7 separate regions of the Homo sapiens genome follow, and all the other regions are reported to be linked to region 7. Evidence: microRNA targets listed by miRTarBase, many of them from high-throughput screens and not tested one by one. Region 7 holds a microRNA gene; each other region holds the end of a gene's coding sequence.

What was found. Region 7 holds the annotated microRNA hsa-miR-1-3p (UGGAAUGUAAAGAAGUAUGUAU, at 2,450-2,471, shown strand). A microRNA usually pairs through its seed, bases 2 to 8, with sites in the 3' UTR of a target mRNA and lowers its output. Matches are read on the target gene's strand: a 7mer-m8 pairs with bases 2 to 8, a 7mer-A1 pairs with bases 2 to 7 and ends in A, and an 8mer does both.
Region 1: miRTarBase lists NHSL3 as a target of hsa-miR-1-3p. Seed matches in the 3' UTR shown: 7mer-A1 at 3,047-3,053.
Region 2: the mRNA of RARB is a reported target of hsa-miR-1-3p. Seed matches in the 3' UTR shown: 7mer-m8 at 1,004-1,010.
Region 3: miRTarBase lists LRRC8C as a target of hsa-miR-1-3p. The part of its 3' UTR that is shown has no 7-base or 8-base seed match.
Region 4: the mRNA of UGGT2 is a reported target of hsa-miR-1-3p. The part of its 3' UTR that is shown has no 7-base or 8-base seed match.
Region 5: miRTarBase lists PPM1H as a target of hsa-miR-1-3p. Seed matches in the 3' UTR shown: 7mer-m8 at 3,331-3,337 and 7mer-A1 at 2,214-2,220.
Region 6: the mRNA of TTC17 is a reported target of hsa-miR-1-3p. Seed matches in the 3' UTR shown: 7mer-A1 at 3,440-3,446.

The regions. Positions count from the first base shown.
Region 1 is chr1:32,771,943-32,776,383 of GRCh38, reverse strand. It overlaps NHSL3 (NHS like 3), which reads right to left. Exons shown (of 7, transcript NM_020888.3): 6 at 3,943-4,441; 7 at 1,414-3,519. The coding sequence ends at 3,497. YARS1 (tyrosyl-tRNA synthetase 1) reads left to right here. Exons shown (of 13, transcript NM_003680.4): 13 at 293-1,145. The coding sequence ends at 403. Among named protein-coding and RNA genes, the nearest start is that of NHSL3, 32 kb to the right of the region's middle. RefSeq lists a silencer at 3,082-3,376.
Region 2 is chr3:25,595,635-25,600,107 of GRCh38, forward strand. It overlaps RARB (retinoic acid receptor beta), which reads left to right. Exons shown (of 8, transcript NM_000965.5): 8 at 786-2,298. The coding sequence ends at 982. It overlaps TOP2B (DNA topoisomerase II beta), which reads right to left. Exons shown (of 36, transcript NM_001330700.2): 35 at 3,801-3,895; 36 at 2,350-2,843. The coding sequence ends at 2,673. Among named protein-coding and RNA genes, the nearest start is that of TOP2B, 67 kb to the right of the region's middle.
Region 3 is chr1:89,714,300-89,718,772 of GRCh38, forward strand. It overlaps LRRC8C (leucine rich repeat containing 8 VRAC subunit C), which reads left to right. Exons shown (of 3, transcript NM_032270.5): 3 at 1-4,473. The coding sequence ends at 683. Among named protein-coding and RNA genes, the nearest start is that of LRRC8C, 83 kb to the left of the region's middle.
Region 4 is chr13:95,798,464-95,802,936 of GRCh38, forward strand. It overlaps UGGT2 (UDP-glucose glycoprotein glucosyltransferase 2), which reads right to left. Exons shown (of 39, transcript NM_020121.4): 39 at 3,117-3,349. The coding sequence ends at 3,327. Among named protein-coding and RNA genes, the nearest start is that of DNAJC3, 120 kb to the left of the region's middle.
Region 5 is chr12:62,644,562-62,649,034 of GRCh38, forward strand. PPM1H (protein phosphatase, Mg2+/Mn2+ dependent 1H) reads right to left here. Exons shown (of 10, transcript NM_020700.2): 10 at 1-4,075. The coding sequence ends at 3,928. Among named protein-coding and RNA genes, the nearest start is that of MIRLET7I, 43 kb to the left of the region's middle.
Region 6 is chr11:43,493,378-43,497,850 of GRCh38, reverse strand. It overlaps TTC17 (tetratricopeptide repeat domain 17), which reads right to left. Exons shown (of 24, transcript NM_018259.6): 24 at 2,920-4,078. The coding sequence ends at 3,947. Among named protein-coding and RNA genes, the nearest start is that of MIR670, 64 kb to the left of the region's middle.
Region 7 is chr20:62,551,902-62,556,374 of GRCh38, forward strand. MIR1-1 (microRNA 1-1) reads left to right here and starts at 2,405; the gene lies at 2,405-2,475. It overlaps MIR1-1HG (MIR1-1 host gene), which reads left to right. Exons shown (of 4, transcript NR_171007.1): 2 at 1,564-1,764.

The DNA of each region.
Region 1 (4,441 bases), not on the chromosome of region 7:
CTTGAGGTCAGGAGTTCAAGACCAGCCTGACCAACATGGAGAAACCCCGTGTCTACTAAAAGTACAAAATTAGTCGGGCGTGGTGGTGCATGCCTGTAGTCCCAGCTACTCGGAAGGCTCAGGCAGGAGAATCGCTTGAACCTGGGAGGCAGAGGTTGCGGTGAGCCAAGATCACGCCATTGCACTCCAGCCTGGGCAACAAGAGCAAAACTCTGCCCCCCCTCCAAAAAAGGGGGGGTTTTCTTGCAGTCCCACCACCATCATTAAAATCTCTCTTATCTGTCTTGTCCAGGCTGACTTCAAAATTTCTGAGGAGTGCATCGCACAGTGGAAGCAAACCAACTTCATGACCAAGCTGGGCTCCATTTCCTGTAAATCGCTGAAAGGGGGGAACATTAGCTAGCCAGCCCAGCATCTTCCCCCCTTCTTCCACCACTGAGTCATCTGCTGTCTCTTCAGTCTGCTCCATCCATCACCCATTTACCCATCTCTCAGGACACGGAAGCAGCGGGTTTGGACTCTTTATTCGGTGCAGAACTCGGCAAGGGGCAGCTTACCCTCCCCAGAACCCAGGATCATCCTGTCTGGCTGCAGTGAGAGACCAACCCCTAACAAGGGCTGGGCCACAGCAGGGAGTCCAGCCCTACCTTCTTCCCTTGGCAGCTGGAGAAATCTGGTTTCAATATAACTCATTTAAAAATTTATGCCACAGTCCTTATAATTGGAAAAATACTGGTGCCCAGGTTTTCTTGGAGTTATCCAAGCAGCTGCGCCCCTAGCTGGGATCTGGTACCTGGACTAGGCTAATTACAGCTTCTCCCCAACAGGAAACTGTGGGATTTGAAAAGGAAAGGGAAGGGAAAACAGAGAACCTAGTGGTCTACCAAGTGGTTGGCAACTTTCCCAATGTCTGCTTACTCTGAGGCTTGGCACTGGGGGCCAGGGCCTGCCCCAGGGCTCCTGGAATTTCCCTTGATCCAGCTAGGCTGGGACACTCCCTAAATCAGCTGCGTGTTGTTAGCATCAGGCAGAATGAATGGCAGAGAGTGATTCTGTCTTCATAGAGGGTGGGGTACTTCTCCATAAGGCATCTCAGTCAAATCCCCATCACTGTCATAAATTCAAATAAAATGTCTGAACAAGGGTGTCTGGATGTGAGCTGGACCATCTCAGGAGAGAACACAAGTGTGAGGCAGCTGCTGGCCCCTCACCTAGTCTGGGGTTCCTTTACCCTGTAATGGGGGGTGGGGGGTAGAAGATGGACAAGACACCTTAACAGTCCCTTTGGCAGTACTAGGCAGAAGAGGCCCATACTTGGGTCCAATGTGTGCAGCAGGCAAAACATTTTCCCTTCTAAATGTGGGCCCAGACCACTGCCCTGTCCCCCCCACATTAAGAAGCAGTAGCCACAGCCAAGTTTCAATCATTTAATTAACATCTTTAAATGAAACACAGTTTTCTTCATGTGTCTCACTCAGGCTTCAGGGCAGAGGGAATGGATTTTTAGACATATCAAAGACTCAAAAATTTAAAGAAATATATATATGTATATATATACTTCTAACATTTTATGGAAATTAAAAATCAGAGGCTTTTGGTCTCTCCATTTACTCTAGGTCAAGCTCATTTACCCCAGAGGACAAAGAAGGGCTGCCTCTTCTAGACCCTCCCTTCTCCTTTGTCCTCTGTCCCACCCAGCAGGGAAACAAGCTCAGAAGATCCTAACAGGATAGAGTTCCAGTAATGTTGGAGGAGGGAGAGGGAAAGAGAAGTCAGGTTCTCTCCCACCTCCAGCCATTCCCAGGTTGCTGCCAGGGCCTGGTTTCATGCAGCTTTGACCCAGTCCTGGATCCTAGGGGGTGGGGTAGATCAGGAGCTCTGAGCAGAACAGTGCTCACTGATTATCCTCTTTCCCCAACTCAGTGGGCAGGTGCAGCGTACACCCAGCAGCACTCTCCACTGCCCACAGGCAAGGGAAGAATATTGATTGATTAGCTACAAGGAGAAGACAGTAGTGACTAGTGGAAAACACCCTGGAGAGGGCCAGAGGAACCTGGCTCTCACCACATCCCCTCTGTTCCCAGCCTTGGTGAGGGGGCGGGGAGGTCATGTCAACCTCTCTCCTTGGTGGTGAAGCTAAAAGCAAGGTTCCTTGCCAGACTCAAGCCCAAGTCACTGTTAAGGAAAGAGGATCAAGAAAGAAGCGGTGGCCCTGGGGGGCAGCCACGCTGCTGTGGACCCACAGGGGCCAATGGGGAAGCCAGCTTGCCTAGACAGGTGGCACAGGCTGAAAATAGAAAGGTTAACATTCCCGGAGAGTACAGTAAGAGAGGCTGATACCTAGGGGACCACCACCCAGCCTGCCCTAGAAGCACTGGGTGCCCCTCATTGACTAGAGAAGACTTGAGTAAAATGCACCTGTGGCTTCCCATCCTTGTCACTCAGCGTTAGCTGCCCCCAGTGGAACCACCTGTGCTGAAAGGCAGCTGCAGAAAGGACATGCACCGAAATGAGGAGAGAGAAAGGTCAGAGAATGAAGTGTGGAGGGCCAGGCCTGGGCCCACTGCTCAAGGAAGCTCCCCCCCTCCAGATGCTCCCTTCCATCCACCTCCTCAGTGCTTGCTCAGCCCAAAGGCTCCTGCCTCTGAAGTGCTGGGGGCCCACCCACCCCAGTGTGGTCAAGGAGGCAAGGGGCAGGTGCTTGACACTGCCAAGTGCCCCGAGATGACTCTACTGCTCACCCATTTCTTTGGGCCCTGGCAGTCTCCTACTTGTCCCCAGCATGGAGCACCTGGCAGAACTGGAAGGCAGGAGGGTGGTTGGTGAGTTGAGGCACAGGAAGGCCAATCCCCTCTGCACCTTTTGTGCTTTGGAATTCCACAGCCCCACACCTGCCCCCAGCCTAGAGAAGCCTGTGGGAACACAATGACTTGGCCACCTTCAGGAACCAAGAGGAGTAAACTGGACTGGGCAGGAGGGCACAGACTGGTCCCAAGCTATGGGCTGACTGCCGGGGATGGATTCTGCTGCCATGTAAACAGGCCCTTGGAATGCAACTTCCTGGGCCCTGGAGGATGGCCATGCAGCCACTTTTCAAAAGTGCTTTGATTCTGGACTATAGTATGTGCATGGTTTGGACATGAAAAAAAATGAAACTCAGGTGAGGTGTCCTGCTCCCAACTCTGCAGCCTCAGGGCCAGCAGGGGGCGCAGCCACCCTCTCCCGCCAGCTACCCACTTCAAGATGAGGCTAAGGCCAAGACTGAAGCGGCAACTGCCAGAGGTGAACCCATTCGGGAAAAGGCATGAGCGCAGGATGACTCTGAGGACAGGAGCAACACCAGGCTTGCATAAGTATCGAAGGCCGTGGAGGTTAAGGCTGCAGGCGCCCTCTCTATTAGGTTGTGTCTGCTGTATCCTCTCGTCCTTGGAGCTGCTCGGGTCCCTGAGATTGTGTTTCTGGGATGGGTCAGCAGTGCCAGTGAGGTGCCTGGTGGTCAGGCCAGCTCTTTCTGTGAGTCTGGGGGAGAAAAATAAGAGACACTTAGCAAGGGGCCTCCTGGCTTGGTTCTGGCACTAGGAGCCCAACAAAGCATACCCTCACCCAACCTTCTTACCGCTTTGATTTACTGACAGTGCCCGCAGCACTGGGCTGGACACCCTACACATGTTCAGACACTATAATGTAGGTGTCACTGCCCCACACTTTACAATGTAGCTAGGAAGGGTAGGGAAAGAGGCAAAGTTGGAATTCAAACACAGTAGGCCTGACACTCACACACCATTCTCCTCTGGGCCCCAGCAAGGGTGACAGCTTGCCCTTCCCAGGCATTCTCAGACCAGAAAAGTTAAAGATCCAAGAACAAATCCCCCATGGCGGGACTTCAGATTCCTACTTCCCATCATCAGCAATGGGACCTCACCCTAGCACTGCCCACTGTACCTGAGCCCGGGAGGCCCATCTTCTCCTCTGGGCCCACCAGCTGCAGGACACCTCCATTCTCCGCCAGCTCCCTCTTAGTCCTGTCCTGGGTGTGAGGGAGCCCATTGGTGGGAGGAGCAGTAAGGGGCTCAGCTCGAGGGTAACTGGGGGAGGCGGGTGGGGGGACTCCCACAGACGGCTTGCGGGCCACAGGTGGGGGAGCCTTAGGTGACTTCTTTGGGGCCTGGGGTGGCCGCTGCTCTGAGATGCTCCGGAGTTCTGCCACCAGATTCCGCTGGAGGTCAGCCTGGGTCTCAGGGGACACGGGCCGCTCCAGCTGCAGCTTCCTAGAGCCCTTGGAGAAGATGAAACTGGCCGTTGAGGCAGGGGACTGGGGAGGCCGTGGCTCTGCCTCAGGCGGTCCGTTGGGCTGAGCACTTGAGAGGCCTTCACTGGCGGCCAGGCTGCAGGCCTTGAGTCGGACCGCAGCATGGAGCCCTGAGGAGGGGGCAGGCACTGG
Region 2 (4,473 bases), not on the chromosome of region 7:
ATCTGTACTGTCCAGTTCAGTAGCCACCAGACACAAGAGGTTCTCGAGCACTTGAAGTGTGGCTTATGCAACTGAGGCACTGTTTTTCTCATTTTATTTAACAAATTTAAATTTAGCTACCTAGTGGGTATTGTACTGGACAGAGTGCTGCTAAATCTAGTTGTCAATAGTCACTGCACATCGTGAACTCCTCTGTTTGTGGGTAACTGCCATCAACCTGTCTTTTTCAAGATACACTTCTTTCATCAGGAACTTCTCTTTGTAAATTGTTATTTCCTGAAACTAAGACATCATATTTAAACGTCACCATATCTCAGCTGCTTTTCCACAAAGTAAAAATGTTTTAATGGTGTAAAATAAGGATAGCCTCTGGGAGGCATTGTTTGCATAATTTTCTGTTATCAAAAGGAGCAATTGTATCAGTTATTGCTTGCATAAAAGACGAATGAAGTTCTAGCAGATCATAAAAAGACCCTCTCTATCAACATACTATGAGTCTGAGCTGGTTGAGAACCCAATCTAACTAACTTTGCAATAAACTAACACATGATTTTTGGTGGATGCAGTTCCCATTCCAAATACATTTATCTTTCTTTGTATTTATGAGTGTGATAGTAATCGATAGATCTTTTTCAACAAAAAGCCACCTGATATCTACATTTCATAATTCCTAAGCAAGAATCTTAGGAAACACCTCTGTTAAAATATATGAAAATTGGTCCCTGGTTATCTGTCATAGCTTAACTCCTTATCTTAACCATATTTCCATTATCTCTTTTGAAAAGGTGCAGAGCGTGTAATTACCTTGAAAATGGAAATTCCTGGATCAATGCCACCTCTCATTCAAGAAATGCTGGAGAATTCTGAAGGACATGAACCCTTGACCCCAAGTTCAAGTGGGAACACAGCAGAGCACAGTCCTAGCATCTCACCCAGCTCAGTGGAAAACAGTGGGGTCAGTCAGTCACCACTCGTGCAATAAGACATTTTCTAGCTACTTCAAACATTCCCCAGTACCTTCAGTTCCAGGATTTAAAATGCAAGAAAAAACATTTTTACTGCTGCTTAGTTTTTGGACTGAAAAGATATTAAAACTCAAGAAGGACCAAGAAGTTTTCATATGTATCAATATATATACTCCTCACTGTGTAACTTACCTAGAAATACAAACTTTTCCAATTTTAAAAAATCAGCCATTTCATGCAACCAGAAACTAGTTAAAAGCTTCTATTTTCCTCTTTGAACACTCAAGATTGCATGGCAAAGACCCAGTCAAAATGATTTACCCCTGGTTAAGTTTCTGAAGACTTTGTACATACAGAAGTATGGCTCTGTTCTTTCTATACTGTATGTTTGGTGCTTTCCTTTTGTCTTGCATACTCAAAATAACCATGACACCAAGGTTATGAAATAGACTACTGTACACGTCTACCTAGGTTCAAAAAGATAACTGTCTTGCTTTCATGGAATAGTCAAGACATCAAGGTAAGGAAACAGGACTATTGACAGGACTATTGTACAGTATGACAAGATAAGGCTGAAGATATTCTACTTTAGTTAGTATGGAAGCTTGTCTTTGCTCTTTCTGATGCTCTCAAACTGCATCTTTTATTTCATGTTGCCCAGTAAAAGTATACAAATTCCCTGCACTAGCAGAAGAGAATTCTGTATCAGTGTAACTGCCAGTTCAGTTAATCAAATGTCATTTGTTCAATTGTTAATGTCACTTTAAATTAAAAGTGGTTTATTACTTGTTTAATGACATAACTACACAGTTAGTTAAAAAAAATTTTTTTACAGTAATGATAGCCTCCAAGGCAGAAACACTTTTCAGTGTTAAGTTTTTGTTTACTTGTTCACAAGCCATTAGGGAAATTTCATGGGATAATTAGCAGGCTGGTCTACCACCTGGACCATGTAACTCTAGTGTCCTTCCTGATTCATGCCTGATATTGGGATTTTTTTTTCCAGCCTTCTTGATGCCAAGGGGCTAATTAATATTAACAACTCCCAAAGAAACAGGCATAGAATCTGCCTCCTTTGACCTTGTTCAATCACTATGAAGCAGAGTGAAAGCTGTGGTAGAGTGGTTAACAGATACAAGTGTCAGTTTCTTAGTTCTCATTTAAGCACTAGTGGAATTTTTTTTTTTTGATATATTAGCAAGTCTGTGATGTACTTTCACTGGCTCTGTTTGTACATTGAGATTGTTTGTTTAACAATGCTTTCTATGTTCATATACTGTTTACCTTTTTCCATGGAGTCTCCTGGCAAAGAATAAAATATATTTATTTTAAAGGTGTGTGGGAGCTTTTACTACACCTTTATCTTCAGTAAAGAGACAGAGAACACAGTTCCATTTTTAATGTTTAAATTTCATTTCAAAAAGCAGGTCTGTAGTTTGTAACCATGACAATTAAAATCTGTGCTAATGCACGGCAGTCTATAACAATTCTACAAGCCAATCAGACAGTACGTGACATTTCAATGAGTAAAAAAGAGCATAAAACTGTATGTGTAAGAACAAAATGTTAAAAGGCCTACCACAATAATAAAAAACCGTCAATTACATCATCACATTAAAATAAGCCAGATGTACAAAAGTCTGAGACAGAGAAGACAAAAGGACAACACAAGATATTTGTTGAAAAATGTTTGTGCTCTTTGGGCACTTAATTAAACATTGCAAAATCAACATCATCTTCTTCTTCATCAGACTCTGCAAAATATTTTACTTCTTTCCTAGCCCGACCGGTTCGTGGCAGAGAAGGTGGCTCAGTAGGGAAGTCTGAGGGGAAGATGTCCACATCTGAATCCTGATCAAAAGATGTCTTCTTCGGTTTCTAGATTTTTTTTCAATAGATTTAAAAGTTATGAAAGGAAGTAAAGACTAGTATTAAGAACTATCACTCCTTAAACTTCGCTTATGTTTAGGAAGTATTACAAATAATGGTGCTTTTAAAATTAGAATCATAATGCTAACCTAAGTGTAAGACCAGTTATCTTATTTTTTGGAGGAAAAAGATTACATACAGTAATTCACCACCTTGGTGGTTTCATATTTACCAAGTTCTAGCCTGAAAAATGTAACACCTTTATTTCTGAAATTATATATTACCCAAAAAGTATGCACAATGCCCAGATTAGTAAAAATTCAAGCTGTCCTACTGGTAAGTACATATCAAGAATTCATGGGAGGAAACAAGACTCCTGCACCGTGTGTAGTATGTGTGCACTGTAAGTGTTTAAAAAAATGCAAAGCATCACCGAGGTGGACCTGAGACATAGAAGATGACTGAATGGAAGAGGTCAATGTGGAAATCAACATAAAAAGGGATGCGGGGGAGCTGATGTCATTCATTTACCTAAAAGAAATAGTGTACTTCTGGAAAAGGGTCAGACTAATTGGAAAAATCAGCCACAGTCAAATGAATTCAATTAAAAAAAAAATCAAATTAGCCCTGGTCAAATAAATCCAAGTTAAAAGGAAACAGTCTTTAGTCTGAAAAATAATATTTTAGTCTGAAAGAGTCTAATATTTAGGTAGCATAACACTACTACAGTTCAGTGGATGAAATGGAAGGTTCTAAGTAGGTTAATTTATAGCACAGTTATTTAGGAAATAGTCCTGATTATATAAATTTATACTTGAATAATTTCTTAACCAAATACAAGCCCCATATTGATACGAGATGCTAGGTGGAAAGCTGTTCCAGGACTATAGTCATAAGCAAACTAAGTCACTTACAGATCTTTTTTTAAAAAGCCATGCACTAATATGCAATGATGTTCCCGGTTACCTTGCTTGTTGTTTTGGATGTTTTCCTGCCAGGGTTATAATCGCCTTCATTTTCAGAGCCAGATGCTTTCCTTTTCTTTGCCCCTCGGCCTTTACCTTAAAATGATACAAAAGGTTTTTTCTTCCGTGGTTAAGTGCAATATAAAAAGATAAATGCCACAACATTGTAGTTTATTTCTTTGGCATGCCCAATCAGTGGAGCATTGCAGTCCTGATCTCTTACTATGAGTGATTATAAACAATTTGGCAGTAGCATTTCAATTCTGGGGTTGACATGACCAAAGACTTTTTGACAAATACATTTAAACTAGTGGGAAAGTCCCAAAGACAAATTTTAATGATGAATCCCTTCATACATAAAACATTTGTATTTGCTATTTGGTCCTTGAGCCTGAAAAGGAAATATCTTGGAAGAGTACTTCTTAAATTACATGGGATTTAAATATTTTTTTTCATTTCTAATTTGTCATGGGCCAATACTTTTAAAAATACCATAGAACACAAATTACTAAAAAATGTAATCACATGCTGTTTTAGTAACACATTATTATAAAGGTCTAAATGTTTACTCCGTTTTACTTATCAAAGACTAGTAACAACCAATTGCATATCCCACATTAAGTGGCACCATATGAGAACCACCAGTATTAACTATAAAATGTCAAATACATATT
Region 3 (4,473 bases), not on the chromosome of region 7:
CCAAGCTGGTGATGCTCAACAACTTAAAGAAGATGACCAATCTGACAGAGCTGGAGCTGGTCCACTGTGACCTGGAGCGTATTCCTCATGCTGTGTTCAGCCTACTCAGCCTCCAGGAATTGGACCTGAAGGAAAACAATCTGAAATCTATAGAAGAAATCGTTAGCTTTCAGCACTTAAGAAAGTTGACAGTGCTAAAACTGTGGCATAACAGCATCACCTACATCCCAGAGCATATAAAGAAACTCACCAGCCTGGAACGCCTGTCCTTTAGTCACAATAAAATAGAGGTGCTGCCTTCCCACCTCTTCCTATGCAACAAGATCCGATACTTGGACTTATCGTACAATGACATTCGATTTATCCCCCCTGAAATTGGAGTTCTACAAAGTTTACAGTATTTTTCCATCACATGTAACAAAGTGGAAAGCCTTCCAGATGAACTCTACTTCTGCAAGAAACTTAAAACTCTGAAGATTGGAAAAAACAGCCTATCTGTACTTTCACCGAAAATTGGAAATTTGCTATTTCTTTCCTACTTAGATGTAAAAGGTAATCACTTTGAAATCCTCCCTCCTGAACTGGGTGACTGTCGGGCTCTGAAGCGAGCTGGTTTAGTTGTAGAAGATGCTCTGTTTGAAACTCTGCCTTCTGACGTCCGGGAGCAAATGAAAACAGAATAACTTATTTTTCGTTAAAGTTTGACTGAAACACGCTTCTACCAAATACAGTATAAATAATTAGGTAGTCTTAATGCCTTTCCTATTTTTTTTTCCTTTTCACACAAAATGTACACAAAGATCGCGTAAGGAGTATGTATTTTTAATAAAAATTTAATTGTATTTTTTCAATATTAATATTTTGAAGTTTTATTTGTCTTGAAACACAATGTATCTATTATCTACTGACAGAAAGAGATAGTTCCATTTGGTTTTTTGTTTTTGTTTTTTAGTTCATTCTTGTGGAAAGGAGGGAATTATAAGTTGCATGCTTTTTGGCATTTTTTAAATAGAGGAAGATATTTTGCCAAGGCCATTTTTAACTTGTTTACACCTGTACAGGGTTCTTATTTTTGTTTTCATTGTGTGTGTATCAAGGAATCTGTGCTAGTTATTTTAATACCAGCTGTCTTCTCCATTGGCCAAGACCTTCATTCAGTGGAACTTCACATAAGTGCATTGTCATAGAGTATTTTAAATGTTCCCCTGCCTCCAACAAAACCCTAAACTGTGTTATTTCATATACCTGACAGTTATTGTTATCCTTAGGCAAGGTTTTTGTGAGTGAAGAAAATAATCTTTAGTGGCTGGTATGTTTGAATTAGGCCTTTATCATTTAACTTATTTGCATTTTACCAACATTTTAAAAATATTTAAAACCTAAATACAGAGGCTCCTCCCACCTTAATCTCAATACTGCTATGTAGTACTGGTGAACAACTTTGGAGAACCTAGATTTATTTTAATATTCTAATAGATAATTAAATTTTAAAATGATAGAAGCCTGGTTTTTGAGTAATTTAATCATCTTTCATATCTTGATATGCAGCTGCATCAGATGGAAAAAAATTTACTAAAGCACCCTGTTAAAGAGCTGGTGTGCTCCAGTGAGGCCCTCTCCTTTTCTCAGCACAGTGTGGCAGTGGTAATCTATTCAAATTTTGCCTGTTACACAAAATAATCCACTTATATATACAGTCAGCCTTCCGTACTTGTGGGTTCTGCATCTGTGGATTCCACCAACTGTAGATGGAAAATACTCAAAAAGAAAGTTGTGTCTGTACTGAATATGTACAGACTTTTTCCTTGTCATTATTCCCTAAACAATACAGCGTAACAACTATTTAAATAGGATTTACATTGTTTTAGGTATTATAAATTACCTAGAGATGATTTAAAGTATATGGGAGGATGTGCATAGGTTATATGCAATTTCTGCACCATTTTATGTCAAGGATTTTGAACATCCTCAGATTTTGGTGTTCGAGGGCATCCTGGAATCAATTCCCCATGATACCGAGGGATGACTGGATATTAATCGATTTCCCTCAAGCCTGCCCTTGCTGTGAACTAGTGCTACAAGCACGGGAAATCCATCTGCTCTCTGGCTTAAAATATGTATCTCATCTAAAATTGTTCGTTAAAGTGTGAATAAATTGCTAAGTGGTTGTTGCTTAGCAATAATTTTTGCCTGACCATCAGCAGAGCTTTTATTTACCTTTGTAATTAAAATCCAACATAGCATGGGCTCTTGGGCAAAATATTTCACTGACTATTAAGCATGTAGAACAGGAAAATGAAATACACTATTTGTGCCCTTGACCTAGAACCAGAACCACTAATTATGAGAACTTTGTTTTATGTACCAAATTCACATTGACCATTTTCTGAGCTCTAGACTGATCGTAGTAAGTTTTGTGACTTAACAATGAAAGAAAGTAGAAAGATGCTTTGGGTTTTCAAAATGTTGTTTTTTAAAATTGTTCTTTGGGTGAATTTACTCAGTGCTGCTTTGAGTTGTATACAGAAACAAATGTTGGGAATTGCTCCTCAGAAATGTGTTCCTAAGTTGTGTTTTCAACTTTACATCATGAGGTGAAGCATTAGGGAAAGAGATTCTTTCGATTTGTTTAATAATCTAATTATACAGACCAAAGTGCTTTACGTTTCTGCTCTATGTTAATGTTTTAGAATGGTGATTTTGCTGATTAATTTAGACCTGGAATTGAAATAATGTGCTCAGAATAATAACATGGTTATAGTTCTTGTATGATAAAGTATTCAATTTCAGAATAGTGTTGGAATCCTGAGTTTGAATAATGTGTTGTATTTAGAAACATAGCCCTATCTGTTTTAAACAAATAATTTGTTGGCCGATTGTCCATGGTTGAGCATGACAAAAATACCTCGTCGAAAGGCAAGCTTAGGTAACTGCTGGCAAAACACTGGGTGCACTATTTTTCTGGATAAAATTTATAGTTATTTTCTATATTACCCTTCAAAAGGGATCTCTTCAGGTTAAAAATCACGCTTATGCTGAAGTCTTTATCTGGTGTTAACTAAAAATCTCATATGGGTTCATAACCGAGGTCACTAATAATTCATTTTTATCACTTGTAAAAATTTGCTCAAAATTCCAAAAAAATATTGATTTGTTTTTTAGTGATTTTGCAGGCTGACCCCCAACCTAAGTTTTGATAACATCTGGTAAGTCAGTATAGTTCTGTGACTTCATGTTTTAACTAAGAAGGAAAATTCATAGATATTCCTATTAGATTTTATAAACCTTCAAAAGTCTGAAACTTAATTTTGAGTCTAAATTTTCTGACACTGGCCCCTTTTAATATTGTAAGTTTTTGTTCACTTTCTTAAGTAAAAAAAACATTTAATTACTAGTTAGCCCTTAACTGGGAAACTCAGGTAATGAACTGCTGACTTTTCTAAAGTTCTTTAACTGATCAATTCTGTATAGAGGGATATTTATCTAACCACTTTCCGTATTTTACAAGTGCTCTTTCTAAAAAGGAATAACTATTATAGCTCTATTTCCCCAATCTCTATAGGACTCATGAGAGATTGCTTGTGTAAATATAAAAGCACCATATGTGTTCTTAACTCCTATGGCTGCTTGAAGCTCATGATGAAAAAGTCTTTTTGTCAGTTTTAATTGTTAAGTACAGAACAAACAATTGTTTGGTGATGGCCTGGTTGAAAGAGAGCATATAAATATATCCCAGTGGAACTCACCAAAGAAGACCACACCTCAGAAATTATTGCATTTTCTCATTATGTGTTGGGTTTGATTTGCTTTTGTTTTTAATGCAGCTCTTTTAATATAAAGATTCTTGATACAGTGAAATCTCTTATTTCAAGTGTAAGTTATTCTTCACCCACCCCTTCCCCTGCCATTGTATTTCCCATCTGTTTCAAGGAGTTTCAACAATTTACATTGCATCGTATGCAGTAGGTACTGCTTTTTCAGAAAGACCTGGAAAACATACCTGCTATGAATATTTTGTTCAGATGTAGCCATTTACCTGGCTCTCAAGTTGTCTTTGTGGAGAGGGTCTTAGACAAAAATCTTCCTTGTATTTACTTGGGTTAAGTGAAGTCCAAATTCTTACAGTATGCTATTTCAGGATTTCTGATATTAAAAAAGAAAAAACAAAATCTTTATATCTCTTATTAACACTTCCCCCAAGAAGGGTTGTGCTGTTATTTATTTTCTATTATAAGAAAAGTTCATTCTTTAAGTAGTTTCTTTTACCTCTAATCTAATTTCATACCAAATACCTGATCAATAGAAATGATATATTTAAGCAGCAAAGATTCCTAATCCATCATTATGAAAAGTGTCAGCATACTTAGTAGTGAACAGATAAAGTCAATTTGAATATAATTCCACTTTGTTTTTAGAGACTAAATTAAGATTCAATTAACATTATCCTATGAATTCTGAATGTGATAATGTGAT
Region 4 (4,473 bases), not on the chromosome of region 7:
CAGCTGTCACATTACGATAACACTTGAAGACTTTAAAAAAGAGAGGTTCTAGAATGGGCTTACACACCTGACCGAGCCCCTCTAACTTACAAAGTTACCTGTAATTTTGGCCATCAAAGCCCTGGACCATCATGTTTCCTCTTCCTCACTCTGCCACCAAAGGTGAGATTTTAACCAATCAACTGGTTCTTTAGAAGTGAGTGGAGCCCCTTCAGTCTATGAAGTAACAGAAGTGAGTGAGACAATGGCTGGGTCATAACTTCTGCTTGTTGGTTTGAGCATGGGCCCATCAGCACCTTTTACTTCATCTCTGTAACTATGGATCTGAGACACATGATCCACGTGTTCATCTGACTTGTCCCGTACCTCCTGCCCATGAAAGTATTCTGTTGGGTCCCTGGAGCCTCTTCTGGGCAGTGGCAATTTGTTGTCTGGTTGCTTTTCAGGTGCTGGAGTCAGGACCTGGCACACAGCAACAAGCAGTTCTGTGGGCAGGTCCCACTTGTGTCAGACTACATGTTTAATATTAAAAGCCTGATTTTATAACCCCAGGCTGACATGGCTTTAGGTGCCTTTAGAAGTATTTGATGCTATCCTTCTAGGAGCTATGTTGTTCTCTAGGAGCTTGAGGGTAACTGGAGCCAAATGACAGGCATTTCCCAAATACAATCTTTTGGACCTAAGTGTTGGAGGTGGTATGCTGACTTTGGATTGTCTTAATGCTCAGATTCTGGGTCTACTTTCTACATAAAGCTCACACATCACTGTGGGTCAAACACAAATGCTTCTCATTCTTAGTTTAGATACACTGTTCTGACACTTTTTCTAAGAAGGCAGAAAGAGAAGACATTTATCACTTCCCATAGTTAGAAACTAGTTCCCCCACATTCCGCTGACCTCCACTACTTCTAGGATTTGATTTTTGTTAAAACTTGACATAGGGCCTGCAGCCGAGAACCAGAATTTAGGATCCTGAATATACCATGAAAGCCGTTGGACTATATTTGTTCAGCATCTCCAGGACAAGGAACTGAATGGCTTTCTCTCCAAGTGTTAGCAAATAAGACCTATGGTTCAGTTATGTAATGTGTCCCTGAGGAGGGTACATTTTTGTATGGCACAGCAGTTTGTATGCATGAGAGCTCTTGACATAACAGCATTTTTAAAACAAGCCATTTAATTAAAACATCTCACTGTAAAGAAATACCTTATTTATAAATCTGGATTTTCTGGTATAAGGTGTCACTCACCTGGAAATGTAACATGTAAACTGGCCACTCAGATCACAAGATGCAAACAGGGAGGGGGGCCATCAAGACTGTGTTTACATTGTTCTGTAATTTTAGCTTAATACTCCATGAAAATATGGGACCTAGAATACTGGAGAAGGCCATTGTAGGTAATAAAAGTAGGAATCCGGTGTCTCTGCCCAGCTGATCATCCTTTCTATAAGATTCTCACAGAAGTGAAGACAGGCTGGTAACAAAGGAAAACAAAGTACCATCTTATAGTTGAGGTTTGTGCCCCAGCCACCGCAGCAGACCTCTGGGTAGCTGGGTGGAGCATCTGGCCTGACCTAGAACCTTACAGAGTCTCACCTCTTACCAATCCCCAGCTTCAGCTGACTCCCAAGAGTGAGCCGGAGAGCACCATGACGCTGGCCGCCCCAGGACCATTTACTGCTCCAGCCTCTGAGTGTACCCTATAGGATACTCTGAACTCACAGGAATAACCTAGTTCCACCAGAGCAGGCCATAAATGGTGCACTCCATTTTAATACAGACAAACACGAACAAGTAACAAAGGGAGGATGACTGCAAGAGGGAGAGGCAGGCGCTCTCTTATTAGGAATGAATGGAGCTGATGGGAGGAGTAGTATTTTAACTCTATGGGCTGTTCTGTCAAACACAGAAGGATTAGCCTTGTTCTGAAAAGCTCACAGGAGTGAGCTTCGGCTCATGATGGAACTGTGTGTACAGAGCTGTCCAAAGATGGACCAGCCTGTCTCTAGAGGTGGAGAGTTCCCTGTTGTCCTGGAATTTCCAAGATGGCCTGAGGCTCAGCTTTACAGGCAGGGCCTTAGAAGAGGGGCCGGCACACTGGCTGGGGCCCAATTCTATTAAATGCTTCTCAAACTTGTCTAATTACAGAACCATCTGGAGAGCTTTTTAAACAATCATGATTTACCAAGCTTACTTTAGACCTAATGAATCAGACTCTCCACAGGATGAGGTCCAAATGGCACTGAGTTCTCTTCCAGTCCCATGATCCTATGATTTTAGAATAGTTGGATAGTTTTTAAACATTTACTATTATTCATCTATTATTAATACACATCAGAAAAACAAACTGGTTACATCCTCAACTTAGTTCCCATAAAAGTACCTAGTCCTTTTAAAAAGAGAATACACATATATCCCACATGCCCATAAATGCTTTTTATGACATAAAATTAGAAACATTAAAAAATCCAAATACCGCATAAGATTAAAACATTGTTTAAGATAAATGATTACTATGCAACAATATTACTTCCATTTTAAAACAATAGTTAAGGAATAAATGGGCTTAATTATTAATTATTGTTGTCTCAGAAGGAAAAATACAAAATAGGTTTCTGTAATTTTAAATGCATTTCTGTAATATTATTATTGTTATTATTTTTTGAGACAGTCTTACTCTGTCGCCCAGGCTTGAGTGCAATGGGCGCAATATCGGCTCACTGAAACCCCTGCCTCCCGGGTTCAAACAATTCTCCTGCCTCAGGCTCCCAAGTAGCTGGGATTACAGGCGCCCACCGTCACGCCCAGCTAATTTTTTGTATTTTTCGTAGAGACGGGGTTCTGCCATGTTGGCCAGGGTGGTCTCAAACTCCTGAACTCAGCTGATCCACCTGTCTTGGCCTCCTAAAGTGCTGGGATTACAGGTGTAGCCACTGCACCCAGCCTAAATGCATTTCTGTAATTTTAAATGCATTTTGTGAATAAGGAAATGTGGATGCACATAAAACCAGATACAAAAGGCTATAGTTTGATAAACACCAGCTAGTCCGGTACCTGGGCTATCTGGCAAAATGTCAAACTTTAACTGGTGATCAGGAAAAAGGAACAATCAGGTTTTAAATACTCAATGGTCATTTATTATATAACTTAAACTCATTCAATACATTAAATAACTGTTTTAAATAATTACAATTTTTTAAAATTAAAGAATATGTCACTGATCTTAACGAGACTTCCAAATCGTCTCAGCAGGGGCTCCAGACTTCCCCAGCAGGCGGCAGGTTTCCTGTCATGCTTTCGCCTTCCTTCTCATATACACCAGTGCTAGAGTTCATCATGTGTCAAAACTATAAGGGAGAAAAGTTTATTTAGCTTCTGGCATCTTAAACATAAAAATATCTTAAATATTACTTACATATGATGAGGAAGCACCGGTACTGACTGAGGATCCTTTATTTGCTAGTTCAGTACCTATATGCTTCATTACGCAACACGAGAATAGCTCTTTGTACACTGTGATGTCTATTATATTGTCTCATAACTACTGGTCTTTCTACCCACCTAGAATGTGAGCTCCCATGAGTCTATGAGGACAAGGAACATACCTTACTTATCTTTGTTATCTTTAGGATCTAGCATCCTGCCTGGCAGATAAGAGGTCTTGAAGAATACTAACAGATTATTCACTGTGAATACAGTATTCTACCCTTAATGTAATGGAACAACAGAAAGCAGAGGACATATTAATATATAGTCGTCATCTAAGATGGGAGGACACAGCACTCTGACATAGACATAAGTACTACATAAATGCAAGCACAATTCTGATGAGACTCTCAGAGAACAAAATGGTCTCTTCTGCATCACTGAGCTGTCACATACCAACTGATGTAAATCACTGAGAACTCAATATTTTCAGGCAGAAATTAAATAAAATACAATTTAAATGCATGCTGTTCCACAATTCAAGATGGCAGACTATATTTCTTCACTAAATTCTACTGGAAAGATAATAAATATAAAAAGGAAAAACAATAATGAGAACGAGGGAAGTGGTTACAAGACACTTGTTGGGGCAAAGTTACCAATGAATTTCAAGAAATGGGAAACAGGGATAGACTGCACGAAACAACTTCATCCCAGGATACACCGCTGAAACGATGAGTTGGCTTTCCTGATGGAGGAGGCTGGACGAGGCTATAACAAACGCCAGTGGACAGTGAGTCACACAGTGAGGCTATCAAGTAAAGGGCCGTCCGTGGAAAATCTGTGCCTGTCAGCTCCCCACCCCACTCTCATTCTTCTGAATCCAAAAGAGAAACTGACAGCCTGGTATTAGCTATCCTTTTTTGTTTGTTTGTTTGTTTGTTTGTTTGTTTGTTTTTTGAGACGGAGTCTCACTCAGTCGTCCAGGCTGGAGTGCAGTGGTGTGATCTCAGCTCACTGCAAGCTCCGCCTCCTGGGTTCACAC
Region 5 (4,473 bases), not on the chromosome of region 7:
AAGAGCAGTCCTCTGCAGACCGGCACTCCATCTGACAAAAGCCACAGTGCTCACAGAAGAGGCAAGTCAGTCTGCTCGCGTAGCGTCCTTTGAAAAATCCCAGTGTACAAACATGTGCCACGTCACCACACAAAACCAAAGTCTGCTCAGAGAGGTGGGCTATGGTGTGCAGGCTGCAACCTTTCTCTGCAATTGTTAAGTCTTCAAAAATCTGAGTTCCTCACATAAAATTCTGTGCTGTGGCCAGAGCTCGTTTTACCATTTTCTTAGATTGGATCACTTTTAGGATCAGCTTCGTTGTTCTTTGCGTAGACAATGACTCTCACAGCTTTCTCCAAGTGTCCCAGAAGCACTAACTTACTGAAAATAGAATCTCATCAAAGCTTAACATATTCACTCTGAAAACAGCGGAGCTGCTGGGTCGCTTAAGGAAAGCTGAGAACCTCAAACCTGTGGAAGGAAAACCAGTGACCACTTGTGGCCTTATAAAGTTGATTGGCAGGTGAGGAAGGGGATCTCAAGAGGAGAATCCGAATTTCAAAGACATGGGAGATTTGTCCCTAATGTTTTCATACTAGTGCTCTTGTTAAATGGAAAACCCTTCCTGAATGGGGAAGATCTGAGGCTAAATCTGGATCCTGGGACTCTCATTCTTGCCCACCACCATCTCCCTGTGGCTGTCATTCTTCCCTGGAAGTGAATGAATACTGAGAACACAGTAAGAGGAGGGTGGTCACAGCTGACTTCACAAAGCCTCATGGAGGTTAAGTTGTTCAAGAATTTAAAAAGTAAACACCCCAAATCCTCCAAAATGGAATACTGTGGAAAATAACTGAAATTTCCACTGCTTAAGGCTTCATCCTATTAAGACAGCTGAGTACTTGGCCTGGCCCGATTTTCACCTTTCCTTTTACACCTCAAGAACAGCAGATAGGTATGCATAACCACAGCAGAACACACCCTCCACCTCTCTGACTGCTGACACTGGCTACAGGAATAAGGCTTTGGTTATCATCTAGCAAAATGCCACAGAGCATGGACGGACTGAGTTTGTTCTAAGGAAAGGAGTTTCACCAGATAGTCTGAAGAGGCCCAGCCCAGCAAAGAGATTTAGAGCAGGAAAGCCTTTCATTAAAGTAGCCACACACCCCTCGAGACAACCATAAAGACTTGACTAGGAAATCAAAAGGTTTTTATTAAACAAGACTTCCTCTGAGGCTATTCGAGCAAGCAGATTTGGCTATAAGTCAGATACGCAAGATTTCTGAACCATGTATAAATACGTTCTGCAGAATTTCGAAGTGTGCGTCCTTTGACTTTTCCAGGGATGCACCAGGGGCCAACCCGTTATGTAGACACGGTTACTGTTTTAGGACTGGGTGACATGGGGCCTGGGTAAAAAAATAAGGCCAAAACTGAGTAAGCTCAATTTATAGAGCAATATCAGTGCTGGACAGATCTGCCATGCTTCGTTTACATCATGTTTCCTACTTTTGATTTCTTCATCTTATTTATAGTCTTCCTCCCATCCCCTGAACACAAACTTGACTTTATCTTCTAACTAAGATCTTTCCACTCAAGGGGGCGTAGGAAAACAATTCCTGGATGCCTTTCTAACTAAAACCAGCAGGACTAAGTGCTCAAGATTTTATAATATTTCGATTTAGAGGTTTCTAGAGTTATTCCTGAGACGTGCCATAGCAGTAAATGAATTGGTGAATTGAGTAGAAGGTAGTTGTGACATCTACACCCAAATTCTTACTCTGGTGGCTTGAATAAAACTGGAGAAGCTCAAGGTAGGGCCCAGATAGAGGCCCAGGAAAGCAAATAAATGAAAGACGGTGGGGACACAGGAAGGATCCCAAAGACGGCAGCTCAGGGTCCTCCACGGAAGACTTGCTCAGGTTTCCTACTTACACATGACTCTGAGTGCCAGGGCAGAACAGGGAGTGGACCACACTGCTGTCACATGCCCGAAGGTTTTCCTACAGCATCAGACTCTGCCACGAAGCAAAGCATTTTCCACAAACTTCTCTCCATAGAGATATCTGGGGTAGCTAAGATCTACTGCAGGAGGAAGAAACGTGCTGCAGATGAAGACAACTCCTGACAAGGCCGAAGTCCCATTCTTCCCAGGCCAACACTTGCACAAACACCTGGTGGCGTGAATTCCCACAGTATTTCACCTGCCAGACGGCACTGTCTCCACACCCTGGAATGAGTTCTTTCCTGAGCAGGAGGGGCTCCAGGCCTTTTCGAATACAATACCGACAACTCCAGAAATGCAGGTGATTTACTGCCCTGGAGGAGAGGTTCCTATCCTCTCCTCTGGGAAGAAATTCAAACAAATATGAGAACTGGAATTAGCTCTCTAGCATGCTGGGGGGGTCACGTCAGTGACCTTTTTTCCTTTTTGGGTCAGAAGAGTGTTTTAATTACTCAAAGTTGTCAAAATGGTGGCAATACCTCAGTAGCTCAGCAGGAAGAAGACTAGGTAATTTTGTGGCCGTACAAGTCTGCCTAAGAGACAGAAGTGAGTTTTATAATCTACTTGGCCATTCCTCCCAGCAGAGAAGCAGCAGGTAGATATGGCATGCACTGTGCCTGCTGCTGCTGCTCTTGTGGCGAACACTCAGATGTGGAACCATAGAGGGACCTTGAGGAGCTGGGACATGATTCTTTAGAGAAGAGAAGAGACAGGGAGCACAGCATGAGAATGGCCAGTCAACCCATTTCAAATTCTTTTATTAAAGTGCCCCCCGAGGGGCCTTGCACAAAGATGATGGGGAGAGCAGAACTGCTGCTCCTTGACAGAACTCTGATCCTTACACTTTGTTTGGAGTGGGCTTGGGGACAGTCACAAGCCATGAAACATGAATCCAAAATGGTCCCCAGATGAGCCATGGTGAACCAACAGATGCAAGCAACTTCTTAAACTGCTCTATTAAACACTGCTTTATATGTGTCCCCATGATACAGAAAAGTGGGATGGGGCCAGCCATTCCAGAAATGAAAATCCAGACTCTCACAGAGAACCCTTGAGCCACACAGGAAGACCACTGAAGACAACAGAGGAACTACTGGTCCACAGAAACACTCAGTTTCATGAAAACACACTGATTCGGTTAGAAAATGCAACTTGGGAACAAACATTACACAACAAAGACCCTCTGTCATGCAGGGCACTGGCCCGGATGCTGCCTGGGCTGTGTGGGCTGGAGGAGGTGGGGACAACCCAGCCTGGGTGGGACTTGGACACAGAACTTCCTTAGCAGGGTGTTGGAAAGTCCCAGGCCTGTTCTGTGGAAGGGGAATAAAAAACAGATTCAAGGAATGTCAAAAACACGAAAAAAAAAAAAAAAAATCCCTGCCTCACTCCACCACTGCCATAAAAGAATAGAAACAGAGAAGAAAAAAAGAGAAGGGGGGCGGGGGGCAGACGGCAATCCCTGAAATAAACCTCAGGCTTCCTAGAAGGTGGGCACTTACTTACATTTTGAGGCATGACCCCCTACTTTCCAATGCAGCACTTTTTAACCCGTAGATAAGCTGGCAGCTTGACAGGCTGAAGAGTCCTCTGCCATTTACACCTGAAAATGGCTGCCCCAGCTACTCTAGATAAAATAAATATGACATATATACCCCAAATAGTCAATGGCCACCTCGGAGGCCTATGAAAGGAACTGAAATACAACAACACTTGGTAGCAGCCTTTGTGTTTTGCTCTTGTTGAGTTGACCTGTTACTAAAGAAGAAATGGAAACCAAAGGGTCATCTTGAAGCATAGTCTTTTGGCCATGAACTCCCCGCTTGGGCTGGGAAGAGACTGCATCACTTGGAACTCAGCTGGGGCACTTCCCAGTTCCGTCCTGCCAAGAGGCATCCCAGCTTTCTTCCCCTCTGTCCTCCCAATCCCCTGGGCCATTTTCATGACAGCTTGTTTCCATGTATTAAAGGAATGACATATACAGAAATGTCGTCTCCTGAGCCCAGTCGGTCATTAGATATCCGCCATCCTCTGTCCTTCAGCACACCCCGGGCACGCATCACCAGGTCCTGAGCTGCCAGTGTGTACCTACACAGGAGAACCAGGAACGAGACAGTCAGTAGAGCATCAGACAGAAGCCAGGGTCAAGTGAGGCTGGGAAGGGGGAGGCATCACTACAGTTGTATAAATAAGTTTCAAATACACTTACAATACGAAAAAGACAAGGTCATCTTTTCCCAAAATGTAGGACACCTAATGTGAGATTATTGTTTACATGGTAGTGGGATAAGGCACTAAATACATTAGATAATGTCTTACATTATTCACCTCCTCAGTCCTCTTTTGATGTTTTTGATTGATTACATTGAGGGGAGTCTCAGTTTGCTGCTAGTATAGCTCAAAGAGCTGCTCAAGCTCAGAGCTTTCCATGACAAATGGTATCTAGCTTAAAAAGTACATGGGAAAAATCAGAACTTTTGTTTTCA
Region 6 (4,473 bases), not on the chromosome of region 7:
ATTAAGCAAATTTCTTTAAAATATCCAGTGTCTACAACATGGTGCAAATAACAATAGCTACCCCTTCCTGGGTGTTTGCATTGTGCTAAATGCTTCATATTTTAAAAATCTCCCTTACTTCTCACAGCTATCCCCTGTGAAGAACAGTAGCTCTTATCATTCTCAGATTATTTTATTTCAGTGAGAAATTCAGCTCAGAGCTAAATACTTGTTCAAGATCTCCTTGCTAACGAGAGGCGGGACTAAGATTTGAACCCAGATTTGTTGAACCCATTCTCGGGCTCTGAGTCAGGAACGGTCCTACCACAGAGGAGTTGCTACAGAGCCAAAGTTCTCATGAGGCCAAAGTTCTGGGGGAATCTGCCTTGGAAGCTCTCAGACCCTTGCTGTATGTGGAACAGAAAGGCCACTAACAGCTGCCCTTTGTGCTGGAGAGTTGGACTCCAAGTTTCATTCCCAGCTAGTTGGTGCCAGTGTCTAAGTCTAGTGTGAGTCAGACCTTTGACCTATCTAGTAAATAAGCCCCATAGAGTTCCAGGATGGCACCCACAGGGCAGGGCTGCTGCCTGCCTTTGCATCATCACTGGGCCCTCGCATCACCAGCCCTGCAGGAGGTACACATTCATGGTCTGTCAGCCTTCACACAGTACAGCTTCCCACCACACCTGATTTGAAGCAGCATCTGAAATGAGGCTGGCAACAATGCTGTGGAGGCAATTCCAAGTCATTTCAAAGAGAGATCTAGCTCTTTCCTCTTCCTTTCAGATAAGCAGATTTGTAGCTGTTCCTACCCTGTACTCCTTCTGTATAAAACCGACTCGAAGGTGCCTCCATTCATTGTTGGCTGACCATTCCTGCTTTTAAGAGGTCGAGGCCATCCTGGTCAACATGGTAAAACCCCGTCTCTATTAAAAATACAAAAATTAGCTGGGCGTGGTGGCATGCACCTGTAGTCCCACTACTCGGGAGGCTGAGGCAACAGAATCGCTTGAAAGCAGGAGGTGGAGTTTGCAGTGAGCGGAGATTGTGCCACTGCACTCCAGCCTGGCGACAGAGCAAGACTGTCTCAAAAAAAAAAAAAAAAAAGTCCAGAGTAGAAAAATATTTGTTGAATTATTAACACAAAAGAAACAAAAACCTATGTGCACACAAAAACCTATATACTATTTATTTTTTTAGACAGAGTCTCACTCTGTCACCCAGGCTGGAGTGCAGTGGTGCAATCTCAGCTCACTGCAACCTCTGCTTCCTGGGGTCAAGTGATCCTCGTGCCTCAGCCTCCTGAGTAGCTGGGATTACAGGCCCCCACCACCACGCTGGCTAATTTTTTTGTATTTTTAGAAGAGACAGGGTTTCACCATGTTGGTCAGGCTGGTTTTGAACTCCTGACCTCAAGTGATCCACCCACCTCAGCCTCCCAAAGTGCTGGGATTATAGGCATGAGCCACTGTGCCCGGCCAAACCTATATGCAAGTGTTTATTGCAGCTTTATTTACAATCTCCAGAAGCTGGAAGCATCCCAGTGTCCTCCAACAGGCCAACAATCAATGGAACACTACTCAGCAACAAAAAGTATCGAATCGTTGATCCACGCAACATGGGCGAACCCCAAGTGCATTCAATATGTTGAGGGAAAGAAGCCGGACTCAAAAGGCCATACCCGAATTCCATTTATATGACACTATGGAAAAGGAAAAGTGACGGGGTGGGAGAGCAGACCCGTGGTTGCCCAGGGTTAAGGGTTGGGGAGGTTTGACTACAAAGGGACAGCATGGGGGAGTCTTTTTGGGGTGATGAAAGTTTTGTATCTTGATTGTTGTGATGGTTGCATGATAGAACTGTACACCAGAATGAATTTCATAGTATGTTAATTTTAAAAAGTCAAGTGACTGGGCTGGGCATGGTGGCTCACGCCTGTAATCCCAGCACTTTGGGAGGCTGAGGTGCGTGGATCACCTGAGGTCAGGAGTTCAAAACCAGCCTGGCCAACATGGTGAAACCCCGTCTCTACTAAAAATACAAAAAATTAGCCAGGTGTGGTGGCACATGCCTGTAATCCCAGCTACTTGGGAGGCTGAGGCAGGAGAACTGCTTGAACCTGGGAGGCAGAGGTTGCAGTGAGCTGAAATTGCACCATTGCACTCCAGCCTGGGCAACAAGAGTGAAACTGCGTCTTAAAAAAAAAGTCAAGCAACTGTTGAAGGTTTCAGGAAAAAATTGTGGTGAGGTGGGGAAGCAGGGAACCACACTTAGATACTAGTTAATTTCGATGGATCCCTGAGTGCATAAAGGCTGACTGTATTCAGTAACAAATGAGCTTGCTGTTCTCAAAATACATCTGATAAAACTGGAGTTTGTTGGACTTTAGCTGCGTAGAGAGGTCACAGGTATGTCTGGTGTAAGAAATTACAGACCTGCTTGGAAGAAATTAGTCTTTGCTAGAACCAAACCCTTCAAGTTCCATGAGCCATTATCTGAGACAATCAGTGTCTGATTACATCCTAGCAAAGTCCATAGAAATGCTGCCTTCAGTGGAATCCTGTCCCAAGGGGAATGCCTGACTTACACGATGCACCCCAAGGCTGTCTGTGAAACTTACTTGGATGAACTTTAAGATCAGTGCTTACCTGAGGGCCATGACTTTGTGGCTTAGATGATTATTCCTTTGCCAGGAAGGTCAATTATATACCAAACTCTGAACATGTGCTGACTGTAAGTCTTTCCCGGTTAAATGCATCATTCTAATAAGTTCATCAACTATAAAACCTAGTGATGGATTGTTTTTTCTCCCCTCACCTTGCTGCTGAAAGAAAGATAAAGCCAATGTAGGGCTTGGGAAGATCACATCCAGAGTTAAAGCTGGACTTCACAGCTGCCCAAATTAGTCAGGTTCTAAAGAAAAATCACATGACAGACCTATTTTGCTCATAAACAATTTTATTTTTTTTCTCAGTATGTGCCCTTGAAGATTCCAAAATGTTGGAGTTTCTGATTCTCCTGGGATCAAAGGTAAAAGCATTGTATGGAAACACTCAACCTTGGCTCATTACCCTCCTGAGGAGCTAAGTCTGGAGGCCTCAGAGAGAGGGAGCTGACATTCACAACTTATTCCAAGATGGGTAACACAGTGAACAAAGAATTAGTAAAACATAGACTCAGTCTGTAGAGGGCTTCAAATATACATATTCTATATATATAAACCTGTTATATAGGATTTCAACTTATTGGTTTCCTTGTGATTTGTAATTAAAGTACAAATTATAAAGATGTTGCACACTGCTGATTTCCCCTTCTCAGCCCCCCTCCCTCCCCAACATAAATAACATTACAAAGGTCAGGTGATCCTAAGAATTTTTGTTGTTGTAAATATTTTGTTTTTAAAATCATATTCCCCTTCCTCCCCTGCAAACTACCTCTGAGAGTTTGTAACACAGCAGCATGGAATGGACAAGACTGGGGACAGCATGGAGGTCTAACGGAGAGAGCGCAGAACGTTGCTTCTCACTGACGGGCACCAGATGGGCTTCCGCATTTCCATTGACAACAGAGGCTACGACAGGAAGCAGAGAATGTGCAATGCGGCTTCATCCTCCTCCAAAGAGAAGGCTAGCTGGACCACTGAGAAAAGCCCTAAAGGCATTGAGGTTTTTGGAGACAGAGCACAGCTCCAGAAATGTCTTGGCTCAGTATTTACACAATATCTTGAAGCTGCACTTTCCTTTTAAGAAATGTGTGTTTCTGAAGGTGCCTCTTCTGAGGTTGGTTGGGGGAAAGGAGAAACGTAAAAACAAAAACAAACCAATTCCCACATATGTAAAAGTCCTGTTATAAGTCTTAGTTATTTTCACACACATCATTAATAGTAGATACTGACAATGATTGGTTTCTTTTCTTATTCTTTTTTTTTAGAGCATGAGTAAAGAGAAAGAGAGAAGGAAGAAGTGCACTAAGGAGAGCGCCGTCCCTTCTTCAGCATTAAGTGACACTGGATGGTCTGGATTCGGTTCTTGGCTGGGACAAACTCGGGCTGAAGCTTCAATGTGGATTCATACCACACCAGTGCTTTTTCAAATTCTTCCTGTGAGGGCCAAGGAGAGAAATGTGAGGGGATGGCACCAGCAGACTAAATATATACTGTGACCTCTTTTTTCTCAAGAAGCACCTCTGTACTAGGGACAATCCCGCAGCATTTGCTCAACGGATCTAAGTCTTTGTGGAAAACTCTGAGGTTCCTCTGGGAGGAAACAGCTGCCTTCATTCCCGAGGTATGGGAATGAGGTATGGGATGAACAAAGGAAACTACGGCAGAGCCCAAGAACAAAAGGAAAAGGGGTAGAGCAGCTTTTACAAACCCAGCAACAGTAATAATTGTGGTAATAATGAGACCTAACATTCCTGAGTGCCTGAAGTGTGCCAGGCTGTGCTAGGTGCTTTATGAAATCCTTCCATTTAATCCTCACAGAAACCTCCAGA
Region 7 (4,473 bases):
GGGGTGACTCTCCTGCCCTTTGGGACTCCCAGCTTTCCCCTTGACCCCCAGACCCCGTCCAGATGAATGCCTCACAGGTCGTGGGGGCTTGAGCCAGGCTGCGGGAGTGTCCCAGGCTCTGAGAGCTCATGTGCCAGGGAGCTGGGGACGTTGAGGAGGCCTTTTCCCTGGACTCCGGGGACGGTTATTGCGGAGGTCTTGGGAGGGCACAGATGAGCGGCGGAACCCAGGTGCCCCCGAAGTTGAAGCTCAGGCTGCGGTGTCGGGTGCCCTTTTTGTATCCTTGGCTACGTGAAAATGATAAATCACAGCAGCTACGTGGAAATGGGACATCAGCTTCTGCTTCTGTCTGCCATTTGCTCCTTCCTTTGTAGAGGGGATGCCTCCAGAGCCTTAAGCACAACCCCCACCCCCCGCCCCCACCCACCCCCACGTGAAACTCCAACCCAGCCATGCCCAGCTGCAGACCCACTGCCACACAGCCACAGCATGCTCAGTGGCCTCTGCACACTGCAGGCTCTGCGGAGACATTGCCCTGCCCTGGGTGGTAAGAGAGAACCAACTCGCTCCGGGCTGTCCCCTCGCATGGACGGGCTGCCTGGAGGAGCAACAGAGTCATGTTGGACCTCTCTTCCTGATGAGGACAACGGGAGGTCCTTTCATGTCCCGGGGCTGCTGTCCCACCCCACGCCAGGGTCAGTGGCAGGACAGGGGCCAGGGCCCAGCTGGACCCCACCGCTTAGCAAGCCTCCTGTGTCTGTGCCCGGCCTGCACCCCCAACTGGCGCCTCCCTGGCCCCCGTCCCCCCCAGGCACCTGCAAAGCCTTCTTTCCACCTCTCACCACCGCACGTGCCAGGCTCGCCCTGGGCCACTGCGAGGCCTCGAAACCCTGCAGGCCTCCTCCTCCTCCTCCTCCTCCTCTCCCCGCTCCCAGCAGGTTCGGGGCGGCTTCCCTTCCTGCTGGTGAGGGCCTAACCTTGAGGTCCCATTGGTCTCCTTCTGGCTCTTTCTCCACATTTTTCAGAGTCTGGCTTCACGGCTGGTCATAGAAGTTGGCAGGGAAGGAGGCAGCCTCTGCTTCCCACTCAGAGACATTTTTAAACGCAATGAAAAACATATCGATACAATTAAGTATTCCAAAGTGCTTAGTTTGCCACTCGCTAAGTTTACTTAAACCCTCTTTAACAGGCTCATTAGGAGCTGGTGAGCACCGGGAAATTCATTAACAGGAAGGCGGCCCCCTGCATTTGACTGTAAATTGGTATTGATCAGGGGCTGGTGGAGGCTGGGCGGCTGGCCACAAAGAGCCAGGTGTGGGACCAGCCTCCCGGGGGTGCCACGGCAGTGGCGCTGGGCAGGTGACGGTGGCTGCTGACCCCCGGTGCCCATGTAAGCTGCTGGCTCTGCGCAGCTGCCGCTTCAGGTGGGCCGCACTGCGCGGCGGTTCAGGGTGGTGACGCTGCGAGGCGGGGACGGGGGAGAGGGTGAAGAAGAGCGAGAGAAGGAGGGAGAGAACCGGGGGAGCGACGCTCCCTCGCCCACTGGGTGTCTGCTGTGGCCAGGCTGAGGCACCTAGGGAGTTGCCCCCCTAGTGGACGGCCTCTCAGGAGATCCTGACCACCCTCTGGGAACCTGGACTCCTCCAAGCATCGTCTTTCTCGCCTGCATCTTCGGAGAGAGGTGCTGAGCCCTTCCTCATGGATACGGGGTCCCGGGAGGCAGCCTTCACCAGGGACCTGCCCAGGAAACCAGCAGATGCCCAGGTAAGCCCCCAGGACACCTCTCGGGTCTCTGGTCTGCAGTTCCTCGTCTGGCCTCAGGAGCAAGGAGTTGTCCAGCTCCCGGAGAAGGAGGAGGCTGGTCCTGCGAGTGGGGTGCTGGGCAGGGCGCCCCCCAAGGTTCCTCTCTCCACCCAGCCCTCTCTGGGCTTGGCTGGGATGAGGTGACCCAGGGGGACAGGAAAGTGTTGGCTTTGAAAGTTTGGGACATGGATGATGCCTCCCTGCTCTGGGGTGAGGGTGGAGGGGCAGCCTGTCTCTTCCATGGACGCAAAACCGAGCTACTGCTGGGGCCAGGGACAGGCGCTCGAGACTTTCTGGGGCTCACTGTCCACTTCTGCCTTTCTGGATCGTGTGAGTGTGTGAGACAGACAGAGAGAGATGGATTCAGGGATGGAGGGGCGCCGAGGTCAGAAGGGGGCAGGGAGTCCTGGGCCCCTGGGGGTGGCTGGACACCAGGCAGCAGTGGCAGGAAGGCTGTCCTGCTCACACAGAGAGGGCTCCGGCAGTAGACTCCAGGGAAGAAGTTACACTGCCTCTGAGCTGCCTTCTCTACATCGCAGTGGGGTCAGCTTCTACCGGGGCGGCGTCCCGGGGTCTTGGAACTGCATGCAGACTGCCTGCTTGGGAAACATACTTCTTTATATGCCCATATGGACCTGCTAAGCTATGGAATGTAAAGAAGTATGTATCTCAGGCCGGGACCTCTCTCGCCGCACTGAGGGGCACTCCACACCACGGGGGCCGCCGCGGCCGACAGCCAGCCAGGCGGCTGTGGTGGGGGTGAGGCTGGGGCGGCAGGCTGCCTGGGCGTTGGTGGACGGTCGTGTCCCCGCCAGCATTGTTCTGTCACTTTGCCTGTGTCAGCAGGTGGAAGTGCTCACCAGACATTAAATATTCAGCTTGCTGACTGCGGCAGAGGGGAGGCGGCCTCCGGCAGGCGCGGGGTCCAGCGCGGGGCTGGTGAGGGCTGGGGGGTCGGGGCCGTGGCTGGAAAGCACGGAGTGGTGGCGGCGGCTCTGGGGGCTCCACTGATGGCCATCCTGGAAGAGGCCATCAGCCGGCAGAAAGGGCCACGTGTGGCCAGGGCAGAAACTGCTCAGAGGCACAAGACAAGAGCGAGTTTGGAAAAGGGCAGGTGGCTGGATGCAGAAAGGAGGGAGAGGCTGGGCAGCACATGGTAGAGTCTGCGGAGGGAAGGCACCTCCTGCACCTGCATCCAGCCCTCCCGGCTGTAGGGCAAGGCAGAGGAACTCGGAGGCATGTAGCCTCCAAGGAAGGCGCAGCCCACACGAGATGCTGGGGACGCGGGCAGGGTCAGGGCCACCACTGCCCTTAGGCCCCACTCCTCTGCCGAGGGCACCTGGGACAGGGTCAGAGGAGCTGAGTCTGTGCAGCCCTGAACCCACAGCCCACCCCAGGGGCCTGGGAGCCGTTCGATTTTGCCAAATGTCTGGTTCATGCCGCCCCAACCTGTACCCCCACCAAAGCCCCGGTTCAGCTTTCTCTCTGTTCCGCCGAATCCAACCTGAGGCATGTTTTGCTGTGAATGCAGGTGAGGCTTTGGCAGAAAGCAGCGTGTGGCCCAGGGCCCCTTGCCCCACCTGTCGGGGGCCTGAGAGCCATCTGCTCTGCCGCCATCCCAGTCCTGACCCGAGAAAGGACTGGGAGGATGTCCTGGGGCCCAGGGGATGAGGGCAGGTCCGGATCCGTCCGTGAAACCCTTTTCCCCAGTGCTGGTCCTTCAAGGAGAGGATGGGCGGCGGGTTCTGGGGTCTTAGGCAGCGGCTGGGCTGCTGTGTGAGGGGCGTTTGCCCGGCTCGTTTCTGAGTCTCAGATTGGAGGCGTTTGCCACCTGGGATGAGGCCAGGTCCCTGCCTGGGCACCCCCACCCTGCCACAGGCCTCAGGATTAATTTCTGGGGTGTGTGTCCTCTCTGCCTTGGCACTGCTCCAGCCACAGCGGTGCCCCTGTGCCCTACCTCCCGCACCCTGGCCTTCGGCAGGAATGAGGCGGGAAGGGACAGGCAGGCAGCCCCCTCCTGCAGCGGCTGGAGGCCTTGGGTCTGGGGGCAGCCAGGTCACCTGAGCAGCTGGGGCCAGCATAGGGAGCGCTGGATAAAGGGATTGGGGGCCGTTCTGAGCTTTCAGGTGGCTCCCACCCCTCAGGGAGCCTCGAGGTGACTGGAGGGGAGGGCCTGGCAGTCAGGGCTCCTGGCCTTCAGGTCTTCCTTCTGGAAACTTCGTTCTCCCAGCCTCAGCCCCATCTGGCGTAGCAGCAAGGGGGCGGGTGTTGACCTCGGGCACAGCCTCCTCTCGGCCTCTGGACCCGGAGGGTCAGTGCCCAGCATCCGCTGACGTCATCTCTTCCCTGCCTGCTCCCAGCTCCGGCCACAGGGAGGGAAGTAGCCGGGCGTGTGGCCACCGAGGCTGCCGGTGGCCACAGACACACCGTTCTTTTCCCCTAGATGCGGCTGTTGTACATTAAAGCTTTATTGCAGGATGTGGTGTTTAAATAAAAGCATTAGTGTTTTGGAATTAGGTTTGACTGAGCAGTAAAACTGGAGAGTTCACAGGGAGAGAGCTGCGGCCTGCTTGGCGGTAAATCACCTCCAGTCTCTGATCTGCTGAATTAAAAATGAGCATTGCACGGACACCGCCCATGGCAGCCCGAGCCCCTCTCCCCTGCACGTGT